Homo sapiens: one gene and its partner. The protein of the gene in region 1 purifies or fractionates together with the protein of each later gene. This does not show direct contact. Each region holds a gene or a part of one and is shown in the gene's direction. Other genes may lie near its edges. The genes, in order: LRRC57 and INF2.

Evidence for each region.
Region 2: the proteins of LRRC57 (region 1) and INF2 purify together in Homo sapiens (co-immunoprecipitation; one large-scale study listed by IntAct). This does not show direct contact.

The regions. Positions count from the first base shown.
Region 1 is NC_000015.10:42,538,479-42,542,293, reverse strand, and holds part of LRRC57 (leucine-rich repeat-containing protein 57), read left to right. Parts: 3' UTR 1-2,682; coding exon of another isoform or gene 2,683-2,706; 3' UTR 2,707-3,815.
Region 2 is NC_000014.9:104,703,032-104,706,846, forward strand, and holds part of INF2 (inverted formin-2), read left to right. Parts: intron 1-73; coding exon 74-189; intron 190-263; coding exon 264-423; intron 424-884; coding exon 885-918; coding exon of another isoform or gene 919-922; exon of another isoform or gene 923-1,778; intron 1,779-3,003; coding exon 3,004-3,145; intron 3,146-3,815.

The DNA.
Region 1 (3,815 bases):
GGGTGGATCACGAGGTCAGGAGTTCAAGACCAGCCTGACCAATGTGGTGATACCCCATCTCTACTAAAAATACAAAAATTAGCTGGGTGTGGTGGCACGTGCCTGTAATCCCAGATACTCAGGAGGCTGAGGCAGGAGAATTGCTTGAAACCGGGAGGCGGAGCTTGCAGTGAGGGTGCCATTGAACTCCAGCCTGGGCAATAGAGTGAGACTGCGTCTCAAAAAAAAAAAAAAAGGCCGGGCGCGGTGGCTCACGCCTGTAATCCCAGCACTTTGGGAGGCCGAGGCGGGCAGATCACGAGGTCAAGAGATCGAGACCATCCTGGCTAACACGGTGAAACCCTGTCACTACTAAAAATACAAAAAATTAGCCGGGCGTAGTGGTGGGCGCCTGTAGTCTCAGCTACATGGGAGGCTGAGGCAGGAGAATGGCGTGAACCCGGGAGGCGGAGCTTGCAGTGAGCGGAGATCTTGCCACTGCACTCCAGCCTGGGTGACAGAGCCAGACTCCATCTCAAAAAAAAAAAAAAAAGAATCTGAAGGTACAAAGGTAGAGGATTTCAGACTACCACTAACATCAACATTTAGAAAGCTACCATTTTGGTCATTTTCTGATTTTATCTTAGTCACAAAGCTATTACTAACTATATATCAACAGTTCTCAATAATGGTTAAACCTAGCTTATCCATTAAGTCAAGAGATCACACAAACCTACTATTTAACCTCCACGACAAAATCTTTCTGACGTAAATCTGGTCTAGGTGTTCTCTTTTTCCCATATGTTACTTTCTTTTTTGAGACAGAATTTCATTCCAGACTGGAGCGCAGTAGCACTATCTTGGCTCACTGCAACCTCCACCTACCAGGTTCAACTGATTCTTGTGCCTCATTCTCCTGAGTAATTGGGATTACAGGCATGCACCACCACACCCAGCTCATTTTTGTATTTTTAGTAGAGACAGGGTTTCACCGTGTTGGCCAGACTGGTCTTGAACTCCTGGCTTCAGGTGATCCACCCACCTCAGCCTCCCAAAGTGCTGGGATTACAGGTGGGAGCCAACACACCCAGCCTCCCATATGTCATTTTCTATTTCTCACTTTGAAAGGGGTACTAGTTTATCCATACCAGTTTAGGAGTTTTGTTTTTTCTAAATTTTAATGTTTATTAATCTTATTGATCTACTGAACAATTAACATTTCTGTGTTTTATCAGTACTTCTCATCTAATAAATCAGAACTTATACATTTTTTTTTTTTTTCTGAGACGGAGTCTCATTCTTTCACCCAGGCTGGAGTGCAGTGGTGCGATCTTGGCTCATTGCAACCTCTGCCTCCCAGGTTCAAGCAATTCTCCTGCCTCAGCCTCCTGAGTAGCTGGTACTACAGGCAGGCGCACGCCACCACGCCCTGCTAATTTTTTGTATTTTAGTAGAGATGGGGTTTCACCATGTTGGCCAGGCTAGTCTCGAACTCCTGACCTCAGGTGATCCACCCGCCTTGGTCTCCCAAAGGGCTGGGATTACAGGCGTGAGCCACCACGCCTGGCCAGAACTTATACATTTAACAATTTAAATGTTCCCATTTAATTATTAATTGGAGTTTAATCCACACTCTTATCAGAATCCACAACTACCACCCTTCACAATTTGGGCCTAGACTTATTGCCCTTTCTTCACTCTCATTTGCCTGCCCACCCATATCAGATTATTCTCTCTAAACCCACAGTGCAGTCTTTTCTGACCTCCTTTATACAGCTTGTCCCTCAGTGTCCATGGAGGATTGGTTTCAATACCTCCATGGATACCAAGTCCATGATGCTCAAGTCCCTTATACAAAATGACATAGTATCTTCCTGATACTTTAAATTATCTCTAGATTACTTATAATACCTAATATGCCTACACATAACTTCATTTGCATAGATTCAACATAGTATTTGATGCATGCTAAATTAAGGTTTTGTTTTTTAGAAATTTGAGGCATTTTCCCGCTCAAATATTTCTGACCTGCAGTTGAATCCACAGATGTGGAACCCATGGATACTTAGGGCCAACTGTATTGTTCACTCAGTTGGGAATGCCCTTTTTTTTTTTTTTTTTGGTCCAGAGGCTCACTCTTGCCCACGCTGGAGTACAATGGCGCGATCTTGGCTCACTGCAACCTCCGCCTCCCGGGTTCAAGTGATTCTCCTGCCTCAGCCTCCTGAGTAGCTGGGATTACAGGCAGGTGCCACCACACCTGGCTAATTTTTGTATTTTTAGTAGAGACGGGGTTTCACCATGTTGGTCAGGCTGATCTCAAACTCCTGACCTCAGTTGATCCACCTGCCTTGGCCTCCCAAAATGCTGGGAATTGCAGGCGTGAGCTAACGTGCCCAGCCTGCCCTCTCTTAATTAATATGCTCATTCTGTATGTCTAAGCCTCTTTCCTGCGTCTAAGCCGAATTAACTGCTCACCCATCTGTTACTATAGCACTTCTCACATTCTATATTTATCTTTCATGATAGACTAACTCTTTGAGGGCAAGGGCTATATACAGTAATATGCCCAAAGTTACAGCAAACAAGATTTAGATTTAAATATGAGCTAATCAAGTAAACTAGCTTGTGGTCTAAAGACCCAGATTTGAATCTGGCCACTAGTCCAAGTCACCTAATTTTTTTTTTCTTTTTTTGCGACAGATCTTGCTGTGTTGCCTGGGCTAGTCTTAAACTGGACTCAAGTGATCCTCCCATCTTGGCCTCCCAAAGTATTGAGATTACAGGTGTGAGCCACTGCCTGGCTTTTAAGTCTCTTTTTTTTTTTTTTTTTTTTTGAGACAGAGGCTGTCTGTTTCGCCCAGGTTGGAATGCAGTGGCACAATCTCGGGTCACTGCAACCTCCACTTCCTGAGTTCTAGCAATTCTCCTGCCTCAGCCTCCTGAATAGCTGGGATTACAGGTGCCCACCACCACGCCCAGCTAATTTTTGTATTTTTAGTAAAATGGGGTTTCACTATGTTAGCCAGGCTTATCTCAGACTCCTGGCCTCAGGTGATCCCCCTGCCTTGGCTTCCCATAGTGCTGGGATTACAGGTGTTAGCCACCACGCCCAGCCTATATGTATTTTTTGAGACAGGGTCTTGCTCTATTGCCCAGGCTGAAGTGCAGTGGCATGATCACAGCTCACAAATGCCTTGATCTCCTGGGCTCAAGCTATCTCCTCCCACCTCAGCCTCTTAAGTAGCTGGAGCTACAGGTTATCTGCCACCACACTCAGCTAATTTTTAATTTTTTAGAAAGACGGGGTCTTCCTGTGTTCCCCAGGCTGGCCCCAAACTCCTGGGCTCAAGCAATCCTGCCTTACCTCCCAAAGTGCTGGGATTACAGGTGTGAGCCACCACATCTGGCCCAAGTCACCCAAATTTTTTACAGCTTGGTTTGGAAGGCAATGTAGTATATTAAAATTATGGGCCCTGGAGTCAGAAAGATCCAGGTTTGAATACAGAGTCCGTCATTTATTAGCTTTATGAATTTGAGCAATTTCGTCTCACTTGTAAATATAGGGAATAGCTCCTACCTCTCAGGTATGTTGCAAAAAACTATATAAAAGCACTTAGCATAGTGGCCATGACAGAGTAAGCACTCAGTAAATCATGCCATTTATCTCATCTATAAGGCATGAAAGTAGAATTTTACAAGTTGTACAGAAATAGAAGGCTTGGAGTGGACACTACATTAAAAGGATAAAAAAATGGAGCCAGGCAGAGGCAGGCATCTATAGTCCCAGCTATTGAGGAGGCCTGAGGCTGGAGGATCCCTTGAACCTAGGAGTT
Region 2 (3,815 bases), on another chromosome or scaffold:
CCCTGAGCCCAGCTGCACAGGCATGGGAAGGGGTGCATTGGCCCTGCTGAGCCTGCCCACTCCACCCTGGCAGCCCTGGACACATCCAACGTGATGGTGAAGAAGCAGGTGTTTGAGCTACTGGCTGCCCTGTGCATCTACTCTCCCGAGGGCCACGTGCTGACCCTGGACGCCCTGGACCACTACAAGGTGGGCGGCAGGGCCTGGGCCTGGGCACATGGGGCTCCCTGCCTGGGTGTGCCCTGACCCCGCCCTCCCCACAGACGGTGTGCAGCCAGCAGTACCGCTTCAGCATTGTCATGAACGAGCTCTCCGGCAGCGACAACGTGCCCTACGTGGTCACCCTGCTTAGCGTGATCAACGCCGTCATCTTGGGCCCCGAGGACCTGCGCGCGCGCACCCAGCTGCGGAACGAGTTTATCGGTAAGCACCTGCCCTGGGCCGCATGCCCGCTCCTGCCCGCCTCTTGGCCAGTGCATCCCATGCTGCATCCACCTGGGGAGGTGGGAGCGCCACAAAAGCTGCCCCCGACCCAGGGCCCCAGAGGAAGGCGCCATCTCGGGCCTGCCACCACCTGCCCCTTCAATGGACACAGGCCTCAGAACGCCTGGGGGTCAACCCTGGACCGTTCTCATTTGTGAGACTGGCCAGGCAGTGGAGCCGGACAGGGGGCCTGAGACCTCGTTCTAGCCCTGCCAGTTCTGGCAGTGAGCCCTGAGTAAGCATCACTGTGTGTCCAGCATGATGTCTCCCCTCCAGAGCCTCAGGTCTCTGGTGTCCCATGAGTGCAGCAGGGCAGGGTCAGGTGCTCTGGGTGGCAGAAGTGAAATGGGGAAGGCGGGGAGTGGCCTCCGAACCCTCTGACCCTGTCCGTCCCTTCCCAGGGCTGCAGCTGCTGGACGTCCTGGCTCGCCTGCGGTGAGTCCCCACTGTAGCGGTCCTGCCGGCTCCCCCTCCTGCTCCCAAGGCCAGGCCCACCTGCCCTTTGGCTCCCAGCCACCTCACCTAAGCAGCACCTCCAGATGGCAGGGAGGTGGCTCCCTCGGAGTAACCCCAGGGGTCCAGCCAGAAGCCAGGTCTCAGGCTAGAATCCAGCTCACTGTCCCTGGCAGCTGCCCACAGAAACTAGGGTTGCAGCAGCCATAGAAAGGACAGAATGAGCTCATATCCTTTGCACACCGTGGATGGAGCTGGAGGCCGTGATCCTAAGTGAACCAACCCAGAAACAGAAAATGAAATGCCAATAAGAGGGAACTACAGGGTGGTTCACGTGGACGCAAGATGGAGACAGGGACACGGGCTCCAGGGCGAGAGTTGAAAAACTACCTACAGGGTACAGTGTTCGTCGCTACTTGGTGTCAGGCCCACTAGAACAAGGGTCCCCAACCGCCAGGCTGCGGACCGGTACCTGGCCTATTGGAACCGGGCCACGCAGCAGGAAGTGAGCGGTGGGCGGGCATTCCTGCCTGAGCTGCACCTCATGTCAGATCAGCACTGCATTAGATTCTCCAGCGCACGCACGCGCGCAAGGGATCCAGGCTGCGCGCTCCTCATGACAATCTAATGCCTGATGATCGGGGGTGGAACAGTTTTATCCCTAAACCATTCCCGTCACCCCAGTCTATGGAAAAATTGTCTTCCACAAAACCAGTCCCTGGTGCCAAAAAGGCTGGGGACCACTGCCCTAGAAGGCAAATCGCCTACGTTACACAGTGTACCATGTGGCAAACACGCACATGTACCCCCGAGTCTAAAATAAAAATTTTTTAAAAAAGAAACTAGGGTTGCCAGGTACTGTATGGGACATGCAGTTCATTCAGGTTTCAGATACACAACAGACGATATTTTGGTGTAAGTATATCCCAGATGTTGCATGGGATATACTTATGCCAAAAGTTATTCATTGTTTGTCTGAAATTCAAATTGAACAGGTACTCTGTAGTTTCATTTGCTAAATCTTGCAGCCCTGCTGGGAACCCACATAGCTGAGAAGCTCTATCCAGGCCTCAGTCAGGACTGTACTCAGGGGGGTGTCCTTACACCCAGGGAAATCAGCTTGGAGGAGCCCAGGGCTAGAATGCCTGGTGTTGAAATGGCCTCAGGGGCCAGGCGCGGTGGCTCACGCCTGTAATTCCAGCACTTTGGGAGGCCAAGATGGGCAGATCACCTGAGGTCAGGAGTTCGAGACCAGCTTGGCCAACATGGTGAAACCCCATCTCTACTAAAAGTACAAAAATTAGCTGGCCGTGGTGGCATGTGCCTGCAATCCCAACTACTCAGGAGGCTGAGGCAGGACAATCATTGGATCCCAGGAGGTAGAAGTTGTAGTGAGCTGAGATCGTACCACTGCACTCCAGCATGGGTGACAGAGCGAGACTCCATCTCAAAAAAAAAAAACAGAAATGGCCTCAGCAAAGTTTGCCCACATGGGTGCCTGTGCCCCACCAGTGTGGGCTGAAGGGGGCCGGCCCTGCCTGCGGAGGGCTGTGCTCATTGACCAGACTGAGATGACTGGCAAGTCCTAGGCCCAGTGAACACTAAGTTTCCTCCTGCTCAGGCCAGAGCCCCGCCCCTCCTGTATCCATGCAGCCCTGTGGACCCACCTCAGGTGTGGTCTTCACTGTAGTCACGCAGCGCCCAGGGGAGGGCCTTCCCTCCCCCAAGGTCACGGCCCGGTTCCATTGTGTGCCACCTCCCCAGGCCTTGGTGCACGTTACTCGATGGGAGTGGGCATACTCGCCCTTCCCCTTCCCCAGGGGCGTGCGGGTGCCTGGTGACCCGGGGGCAGCCTGGCAGGGCGCAAGGCACTGACCTGGGAGCTGCCACTCTTAGGTCGCTATCCCTGGCTATGTGGGTCACATGTCAGCCACAGCTGGCTATGGCCTGGCTCAGAGTCCCAGGTGGGCTGAGCGGGGCTGGTACACTGGCGCTGACCCAGGCTGCCCCGCCTGCGTGTTGGTGGTGGCAGCAGCAGGCTTAGCCCACCTGGCCCCTCCTGCACAGAGACCTGGAGGATGCCGACCTGCTGATCCAGCTGGAGGCTTTCGAGGAGGCTAAGGCCGAGGACGAGGAGGAGCTGCTGCGAGTCTCTGGCGGGGTCGACATGAGCAGCCACCAGGAGGTCTTTGCCTCCCTGTTCCACAAGGTGGGCTGGGGGCTGCAGGGCGGAGGGCAGCCCTCCAGGGCAGGCTGTGGCCCTGAGGTCCAGAGGCTGGGCCTGGAACGGTCCTCCCTGCCCTGGTCAGACCCTGCTGTGACCTGGGCCATGGTGCCAGCTTTGGGGTGAGACTCCAGGGAGCAGCAAGGACCCAGGGGTTGGAAAGGGAGGTGGCGCCTAGAGCGGGCAGCCTGGGGGCCGGGCTGGGCCCTGGGGGCAAAGCCAGGGCCACAGGACCCAGAAGGACGGGGCTCCAAAGACCAGTGCGGCCCACAGCCGGCCTTACTGTCCTGGGCCCCAGCTGCCCAGTCCCCATCAGGTGGGCTTCAGAGGCCTCAGGGCTTGGTGAGGGGCTAAGAGGCTGAATTCTCGTCAAGCTCAGGCCTTCCCCTCATTCCCTGAACCTTGCAGCTCTCATCTGGGGGCAGTTGTGTCCCCAGGTGGCATCTGGCAACATCTGAAGACATTTTTGGCTGCCACGGCTGGGCAGGGGGTGCTGTTGGCATTGAGTAGGTAGAGACCAGTGGTTCTGTTTAACATCCCATAATGCACAGGACAGTCCCACATGTCACCAGTACCACAGTCGCTGAAACTCTCATCTCTAGGGATCCGTGGGAATAGAGGGGGTGATGGGGCTGGACACCCTGGCAGACAGGCC